Homo sapiens: one gene and its partner. The protein of the gene in region 1 interacts with the protein of each later gene in a pairwise test. Each region holds a gene or a part of one and is shown in the gene's direction. Other genes may lie near its edges.

Region 1 (5,028 bases):
CCAATGGCCTCATCGCCACCCCCATCACCCCATCCTCAGGTATGGCCTGGGCAAGGCCGGGCAAGGGAGCTAAGCATGGTAGGGGTAGGGAGGGGCACAGGGCATTGCTCAGGGAAGCCTCGGGGTCTGGGAGGGACTCAGGGGTCAGAGAGGCCTGCTTCCTCCCCTCTGCCCACAGACTTGCTGACTGGTTCTCTGCCTGTGTGTGTGTCTGCTCCTCTGCTCTCTCCCTGTCGCTTTCTCCTCCCCAGGAACCAGCACCCCTCCTGCCATCGCTGCCACGCCTGTCTCTGCCATTCCGGCTGCCCTGGGCGTCAACGGCTACAGCCCGGTGCCCACCCAGCCCACTGGGCAGCCTGCCCCTGATGCTCTGTATCCCAACGGGGTTCACCCCTACCCAGGTGGGACTCTCTGCCTGCCCACTCCGTCCCAGCAACCATCTAAACCACCACTCCCATTAGGGAGGCAGGACACACCTTCCCTCCCAGCTTTGGGGGTACAGGTGCTTCCTCCTGCCCTGCCATCCTGGGCGGGGATGATCCTTCCTGTTGGGCTCGGCCAGGAAGCTGAGGTGTAGAGCAGTGAAGCGACCTGTCCAGGGTTGCAAGACAGTCAGACCCAAGTCTTCCTAACGCTGGGCTCTTTCCCCTCTTCCCACTGCTTTGTGCATTTCTGCCTTCTCACTTCACACCCCATGCCCAGAGAAGCTCTGCTCCCCACCTGCCTGGCCTCGGCCCAGAGGCCCAGAGAGGCACTGAGGGCCCCCACTGTGTGCCAGGTCCACGCTCATAGTCTGTGCTGCTCTCCCCAGCCCAGAGCCCCGCGGCCCCCGTGGACCCCCTGCAGCAGGCCTACGCGGGGATGCAGCACTACACAGGTGAGGCGCCCTAGCCAGGGCCCCTGCTCAGGTGGGAGAGGTGGCAGGAGGAAAAGAGGCCCAGTAACTGGGTCTGGGCTTCTTGGCTCCCTGCCAATCACCCTCTTCAGGCTTTACTGACAAGCCCAACTGTGGGGAGGGGTCTTTAAGGGCAGCACACCCAGGGGTCTGAGGCAGCTCCTTCCCTGACCACCTCTCAGCCCTGCAGGTGCCACTGGCCTGGGCTAGGGGAAGGGAGACAGGGTTGGCTGGGAGGGCTCAAGAAGTCAGGGAAGCCCCATCAGCCTCTCTCTTCTCCCCACCCCAGCAGCCTACCCAGCAGCCTACAGCCTGGTTGCACCTGCGTTCCCGCAGCCTCCAGCCCTGGTCGCCCAGCAGCCCCCACCACCACCTCAACAGCAGCAGCAGCAGCAGCAGCAGCAACAGCAGCAGCAGCAAAGAGAAGGTGCTGGCTGGGGCCTTGGGAGACAGGAATGCCCTCGTTATGGGCTTGGGGACTCCCTGTCACCCCGCGCTGAGCCCAGCTCTTGCCCACGTGTCAGGATGAAAGCAAGTGGGGAGGGAGTGGCCGGAGACTTGGCCCACACTGTCAAGGACTGGGACTGGAGGGCACTCCCAGGATCTGCTTTCCCTGGGACATTTGCTTCTGGGGTGTGTGCCTCCCAGTCACTGAGCTCTTTCTTCTGTCTCTGTCGCCACCCAGGCCCTGATGGCTGCAACATCTTCATCTACCACCTGCCCCAGGAGTTCACTGACTCAGAGATCCTCCAGATGTTTGTCCCCTTTGGCCACGTCATCTCAGCCAAAGTCTTTGTTGACCGAGCCACCAATCAAAGCAAATGTTTTGGTAAGAATATGATATGGCACATTTTTTGCCATACTCCAAATCAGGACAAGGTCTAATATATTTGAAGGCATTTATGGTCACAGTGGACCCAGTATTTGAAATACTGATTATCCAAGAGTACAAAAGAGCCATTTTGACACACCCAACATGCCACACCCAGCTGCTGCCTCGGCCCATCTCTTCTTCCTTCAGCGTTTCTCTTAAAAACTGGCCAAATTCATGTCCCATGAGGTCTGAAATAGGCTTATGGTCTGGGGATGTTTGGTTTGCAAAAGGTGGGCTTGGGGAGTCGGTTTTAGCTGCCTTCACATCTTTGAAAGTCTTCCTCAGGGGAGAAAGGGAATGTTCTTCTCTGCTTCAGAAGCCATTTAGGGTCTGGAAGTGGCCGTTTTCAAAGGGCAGGCTCAGAGCTATCCAGGCAGAGGAAGGGGTCACTGGCACAGAATGCTGGGAAGAATGTGGTAGTTGGAGTGGCTGGACTGGATTCATCCATTCAACCCATCAATCAACAAATTCCTAAGGAATGCTGCTATGTGGCAGGCAGCTTTCTAGGCATTTGGGACACTTGGGAGACACAGGGTAGTGCCAGAGGTCTCCTAAGCACGGAAGAGCGAGGTGGGGCTGGGCCGGGCCTTATGCCCCTCTCACCCCAGGCTTTGTGAGTTTCGACAATCCGGCCAGTGCCCAGGCTGCCATCCAGGCCATGAATGGCTTCCAGATCGGCATGAAGCGCCTCAAAGTCCAGCTAAAGCGGCCTAAGGATGCCAACCGGCCCTACTGAGGGCCCCCAGGTGGGTCCCGCTCCGTTGTGGCCTCCCTCCCCAGCTTCACACACTGCAGCCAGGGCCCTCGATTGGACTACACCCCCAACCCCTGTCCTCCACCACCCTCAGGGATGCCCACCCCACCCTTGACCCTGGGCACTTGAAGCAGGGGGCTGGGGCAGCTCCCTCAGCTGTTTTTCAATAATCTGAGTCACTCTCTCTCTCTCTCTCTCTCTCACACACACACACCCTCCGTGACCCCAGAAAGAGCCAAGTCTTTGTATATATGTGTCCACTCCCTGGACCTTCCACAATATCTGGTCTCGTTTGTCTGGTCAGTGTCCATGTCTGTGTGTGTCTCTTTCTGGTTTTCCTTCGGGTTAGAGTGGAATTAGGGGAACAGGACTGGAGGATTAAGGGGTTGGCTGAGGGTGCCAGAGGGCCCTAGAATCCTTGGCTCCTAGAATCTCTGTTGTCCTGAGAAGTGAGGACATCAGCCCTGGTTTCCCTGGACTTCAGGTGATTTTTCCCATGTAGCAGCAGACCCATGGGGCAGCAGAGTGCACAGGACAGACTGGGGGAGCCCATTTTCAGGCCTCTTGGGAGTTGCTCTGGTTTAGGTGGAAGAGGTTGAAATGTCGCGCCGCCTGTGAAGTTTACTTAGGTCTCCTCCACCCCATTGCTGGCCACCACCTCAACCTCATGGCCACAGAGCTGTGAGCCTTGGTTACTTTCGCACTGTTTAATCTCCTTTGGACCAAACCCTTGAGAAAACACAACCCAAGAAAAATACCCACATTTTCTGTTTCTCCCCTTTCCCCCCAATCCTGGCTGCTTAACTCCCCCAACCCTGGGGGCCCCCCCAGCCCAGGGCCCGTGTCCATTGTCGGCCGAAGCCCCCATCCCCGGACCCCTGCTCCGGGCCCCTGTAAGTTGCATGGAACGAGCGTGTTGTCTTTGGAGCCGATTGTTTGTTCTTTGGGGAGGGGCCGCGGAGGGAAGCACCCCCAAGCCCAAGGTCAGGGCCGGGGGCAGCTCGCGGGACGTGCTTGGTCTACAGTGGTTGGTGACTGTGGTCTGTGTTCTGTGCATTTCTCTTGCTTTCTGTGTTCCTTTCCAAAAAGGAATGAGAGCACTAACTGGGGGCCGGGGGTGGTCTCACCCCATGAGACTCCATCCCTGAGCCGTGACCTGGGCTCTGCCCTGGCCTTCTCTGCGGGTGTTCCCTTTCTTTTTCCAGGTGTCTGTCTCTTACACGCACCCCCTTCTCTGTCTCTCTCTCGATTTCTCTGCCTGCCTGTCTGTTGTCATCTCTTTGCCTCTCTCCCCCTCCAGTCTTTATTTTTCTCATGGGCTATCTATTTCCTTCCTAATACCGTTTGGTTTCCTGTATGGTTTGCCCCCTCCCTCCTGTCTCCTCTATCCCTGCTCTCATGGCTGGGGGTGGGGGCAGATGGGTCCGTTTGGACTGAGGCCTGATGATCTGCCTTCCTCAGGCAGCCCCATCCTAGATGCTGTCACTCACCCCAGCCCCCTCCCCTCCCCCAGAGCCCGTGATCCGCATCGGGGGTCTCTTCCCCATGCTTCACCCATGTTTCTTCCTTCACAGGTCTGGAGATCCCAGAGGAAGGGGCGCCTCACACCCTCTTCCCACGACTGGCCCCGGCCCTCTCCGCACACCTGCCCTGGGCCTTGACTGGGTTCTGGGGCAAACGCTGCTTCGTGGCCCCCGGGGGCACAAGACACCGGCCCCTCCCACCCCCCTGCCTCTCTGAAGGGCCATGGCTATGCTTCCCTGGCTCCAAGGGCCCATTTCCTCCTAGATGCCCTTTTGGCCTTTGTGAGGGAGCGAGGAACAGGCTCGAAGGCTCCGGGGTATCTGCCTTCTGCTGGGCTCCTGTGACAGGCCTTCTGTACCCAGCGTTTGTACTTGCCTCCCCCAACAGTGGGCCTGTTCTACCCGTGCAGGCCCCAGGAGAGCCGCAGGGGCCTGCCACACACTCCCAGCTCACCCTCACCCCAGCCTCTTCCCCACATTAGGGGTTTCTTGGAAGCTGGCTCTCACTCCCCTCCACCCTCAGCTAGAGGTAGGATATCCCTGATTCCTGGGCTCCCAGCCCTAAAACTCACTGCCTCCCCCAAGGGCCCCCTCTAAGGAGGGTGTGGGGGAGCCCTGAGGGCTGCCTCTCTGCCAGTCAGCCACAGAGACCCTCCTCCTTTCACGAGGAAAAGACCTTCCCCTGAACCCCTAAAAATGTTTACAGTCTCTGCTGGTTCCCTCTGTGTAAATACCACTACCACCCGTGCGTTATCCAGCCCGCCCGGCCTGGCCCGGACGCTGCCATCTCTCTTTCTGGGAGTTTAGACAATGTTGCCCTTGGATTTTTTTCTCTCTCTTAATTTCTCCCTTTGCTTTGGGGGGTAATTGGGTATTGGGAGGAGGGGTGTGGGGAGGGGTCAAGGGGTTTATTACCTGATCATTTTCTTTAGGAAGAGGTTTTAGGGAAAAGAAAATGGGGTGGGGGTGGGGGTGGTAAGGG
Region 2 (4,312 bases), on another chromosome or scaffold:
AGGTTCAAGTGATTCTCCTGCCTCAGCCTCCCGAGTAGTTGGGATTAAAAGTGTGTGCCACCAGGGCCAGCTGATTTTTGTATATTTGGTAGACAAGGGGTTTCACCATGTTGCCCAGGCTGGTCTTGAACTCTTGACCTCAAGTAATCTGTCTGCCTCAGCCTTCCAAAGTGCGGGATTACAGGCGTGAGCCACCGTGCCTGGCCTGATTTTTGAAAAAACTCTTGCAGAAGGAAAAAAATAAAAAAGGAAGACCCTTGTAACCTATTGTAACCTAGCTTTCTGTATGGTACTGTTAACAATTCTGAAATTTTTCTTTGTTGAAATTTGGCGTTATCCGCGATAAGAGTTATCTTAAGAAAACAACACCTAAATCAGAAAGCAATTTTAATTGAAATTGATCTGAACCACAAAAGGTTGTTTTCATTTTCAAAATCTTTTCTTAGCTGTTTTTGTGATTCACCTTTCAATATTTTTGTATTGATGTTGGATATAGATTTTATAGACTAATGTGCTAAAATATGACTTCCTGTTCATAGGCAACACTAACAAATATAGTTAGTCTTTTTTGTCTTATTATCTTTAAATTACAAATATCTGAAGCCCTGTCATAATTGAATGCATCATCCTAAGATTTAAAAACATTATGGTTTTGAACATGATTTGAAAAATGAACACCACACTAGGGGAAGTGAGGCAGGGCTGCAAATAAATGAGGTAGGACAAGCAGAATTCAATTTATGCATTCTTTTCAAGTAGTTATTGATTATAGAAATAAGTAGTAGCCTATGCTTCTCTTTCAGAACTTTGCAGAAAACACCATGAATGAACTCCTTGGCTGGTATGGCTATGATAAGGTTGAATTAAAAGATGGTGAGGATATTGAATTCAGGAGCTACCCTACAGATGGGGAGAGCCGGCAGCACATTTCTGTTCTCAAAGGTAATGACATTTAATGTCCTTTTGTTCATGCAAAGAAGGATTAACTATCTCAACCTGCCAGAATTGAGTTGCTTTGGGACTCAATTGAGTTGCTTTGTTGATTATGCCAATGGTTGATTTAAACATACATCCCCAATAGTGCTTTCCCATAAGCAGAATTCTGCAGAATATAAAAGAACAACATAAAACAAAAATAGACACAGCTTAATCTCCTCCCAGCAATGGGAGAACTAGACAAGGACTAGCGACCTAAGTGCCATGGTCCTGCATACAGATTTAAAGAAAGGGACAATGTTTGCTAACTAGAGTTTCCTGATCACTTTGATAGATCATCATCTGTTGGGGACTGGGGTTTCTGTTAAGTGAAATGTTAGGTTTAGATCTTCAGACTGCTAGAGAGATTCACTGTTAGTTTGGTAATCCTCCTTCCTTTTTTTCAGTGGGAAATCTAAACGGAATTACTATTTTTGTTTTGCTTGACATTTTCATTCTTTCCCTGCCCCCACGCACTTGAATAGGGTAAAAAGAGGAGTAAGAGAGTGGTAGATGATTAGAGCCTATATTACTCTTTAAGAATTTTTTAATCAAAGCCCAGCTAAAGAGTGAAAATTACAGAGCCTTGGCAGAGCTGAATTAACACTGATTCTACCAGTGGGTAACAGTGCCAGATATCTCATGGGGGAAGTCTGTATGAATACTGAATTTATGAACCTAAATTAGGAATGAGAGCTTGCTTGTCAAAGAAAAGAGAAGTATGTGAAGAAGCAGCCCATTCAGGAAACTTTAATAAAATGTGGGTAAAACAAATTATACATCATCACTGGCAATTTGATCAATATTTGCGTTGCATTCAAAATCTATTGGCATAAACTACCTGTTCAAACGTTTTATTTCCAGTCTTTAAGATAGAGCTTTCCCTTCTTATATGCCAAGCAAGGAAATGTAATTGAGCTGCCCTGCAGGCAAGTGGAATTGAATGTACATGACAAATTTTATGTTAAGCTTACTATGAAATTGTACACATCATGCTACAGAGATAGTATCATCAATTTCACTGTAAATGAAAAATGCAAGTCATGAGTTTGTATTCTATAAACTAATAGCTCATATAATACTTGGCCTAGGTAATAATCTTTGCTTCTGGGGAACATACAGCATGCCAGGATATGCTACTAGAACGAAAAAGTTGTTTTCCATGGTTGAGGTTTTTGTTCATTTGTTTTTTTAAGTGATTCACATGCAAGGATACGATGCACAAAGCTCATATCGTTGTAAGTTTTTAAAATTTTTATTTTTGTTATTTTTTAATGGGTATTATCGATACCTTGTGAAGCATCAGTTTTCTTCCCTGTTTCTTTCTCATTGGTTCATGTGATTATATTATGATACAAGTTTATAATACAGTGGGACCTAGTTACAATGCTGGAGGGCACGTTTTAGGCTTTCCCCTGGTAGCCAGAGAGCTATGCTTGCTGTATATCATGTTGTACATGGAAAAAAAGGTTAATTGCCTCTCAATTTTCTTTTCTTTCTTTTTTTTTTTCTGAGACAGAGTCTTGCTCTGTCACCTAAGCTGGAGTGCAGTGGCGCGATCTCAGTTCACTGCAACCTCCGCCTCCTGGGTTCAAGCGATTCTCGTGCCTCAACCTCCCAAGTAGCTGGGATTACAGGCGTGCGCCACATGTCTGGCTGATTTTTGTATTTTTGGTAGAGACGGGGGTCTCACCATGTTGGCCAGGCTGGTTTCAAACTCCTGGCCTCAAGTGATTTGCCCGCCTTGGCTACCTGAAGTGCTGGGATTACAGGTCTGAGCCACTGCGCCTAGTCACCTCTCAGTTTTGTTTTGTTTTGTTTTGTGTTGTTTTTGTTTTTTGAGATGGAGTCTTGCTCTGTCACCCAGGCTGGAGTGCAGTAGCATGATCTCAGCTCACTGCAACCTCGGCCTCGCAGATTCAAGTGATTCTCTTGTCTCAGCCTCCCGAGTAGCTGGGACTACAGGCACACATCACCATGCCCGGCTAAGTTTTGTATTTTTAGTAGAGACGGGCTTTCACCATGTTGGCCAGGCTGGTTTTGAACTCCTGACCTCAGGCAATCCACCCTCCTTGGCCTCCCAAAGTACTGGGATTACAGGCGTGAGCCACCTTGCCCAGCCACCACCTCTCAATTTTCTATGGAATTTTACAGTGCTAAAATTTATCACCATGATTCAACTGGAATATTAGCTATCATAGTGGAGCAAATTATAAAGGAGCCCATTGGAAATTTATGGTAACCACACTAAAAAGTTCCTGGATGAACTGTGGAGTTCTAGTACATTGTTTAAAGATTTGCAAGAAAAAATATGTTGGGTTCATGGCCATTTTACTTGAGAAAATAAGGAAAAATTTAAGTCTACTGCATTACATTCCTTGGTCACATTGAATATGATTTTTTTCTTTTACAGAAAATTCTTTGCCAAAACCAAAATTACCCGAGGACAGTGTTATTTCACCATACAATATAAGCACAGGCTATTCAGGGCTTGCCACTGGAAATGGACTCAGTGACTCACCTGCAGGGTCAAAGGATCATGGCAGTGTGCCCATTATTGTACCTTTAATTCCACCACCTTTCATAAAGCCACCAGCAGGTAAGTCACTACTGGTGTTTTCAGTGATAACAATTCATAGAAAGTTGTTTTAACCATCTTAGGAATAATTATTAAATGCTCAAGTTAACTTTGGTAGAGGCTGTTTTAGGGACCTTATAGGTAAGAAATGTTAATACAGGCATCACTTAGAGTATTACTGTTACATTAGGAAAATTTCCCTACCTACTACTACTTAGGCTATAAACTTTCAACTGACAGTAAACCTTTTCTACCACTGACTACAAAACAAAGTTATTTTCCTTCTCTGAAATCACCTGTTTAAATGAGAAAAAAAAGATAAAATGGTTTTTAAAAATAAAATATAGACAATGACTGTTTAGCAAGAAAAAAAAGTAACCATGGTTGGCTTGTAATCCCTGCACTTTGGGAGGCTGAGGCGGGCGGATCACCTGAGGTCAGGAGTTTGAGACCAGCCTGGCCAACATGATGAAACCCCATGTCTACTAAAAATACAAAAAATTAGTTAGGTGTGGTGGCGGGCTAGTAATTAGCTAGTAATCCCACCTACTCGGGAGGCCGAGGCAGAAGGATCACTTGAACCTGGGAGGCAGAGGTTGCAGTGAGCCGAGATCACGCCACTGCACTCCAACCTGGGCAACAAGAGCAAAACTCCGTCTCAAAAAAAAAAAAAAGTAACCATGGTTGAAAACTGGGTGGTGCATAAGGAGGGCCACATCTCCTCTGGGGTCTTCTGAGGAGAGGGATAGTTTTGTAAAA

What was found.
Region 2: the proteins of CELF3 (region 1) and SOBP interact in a two-hybrid assay, tested with the Homo sapiens proteins (one large-scale study listed by BioGRID and IntAct).

The regions. Positions count from the first base shown.
Region 1 is NC_000001.11:151,702,518-151,707,545, reverse strand, and holds part of CELF3 (CUGBP Elav-like family member 3), read left to right. Parts: coding exon 1-39; intron 40-251; coding exon 252-401; intron 402-811; coding exon 812-877; intron 878-1,184; coding exon 1,185-1,322; intron 1,323-1,580; coding exon 1,581-1,724; intron 1,725-2,377; coding exon 2,378-2,505; 3' UTR 2,506-2,515; intron 2,516-4,097; 3' UTR 4,098-5,028. UniProt on the Homo sapiens protein: RNA-binding protein involved in the regulation of pre-mRNA alternative splicing. Mediates exon inclusion and/or exclusion in pre-mRNA that are subject to tissue-specific and developmentally regulated alternative splicing.
Region 2 is NC_000006.12:107,502,854-107,507,165, forward strand, and holds part of SOBP (sine oculis-binding protein homolog), read left to right. Parts: intron 1-803; coding exon 804-942; intron 943-951; exon of another isoform or gene 952-2,213; intron 2,214-3,388; coding exon 3,389-3,574; intron 3,575-4,312. UniProt on the Homo sapiens protein: Implicated in development of the cochlea.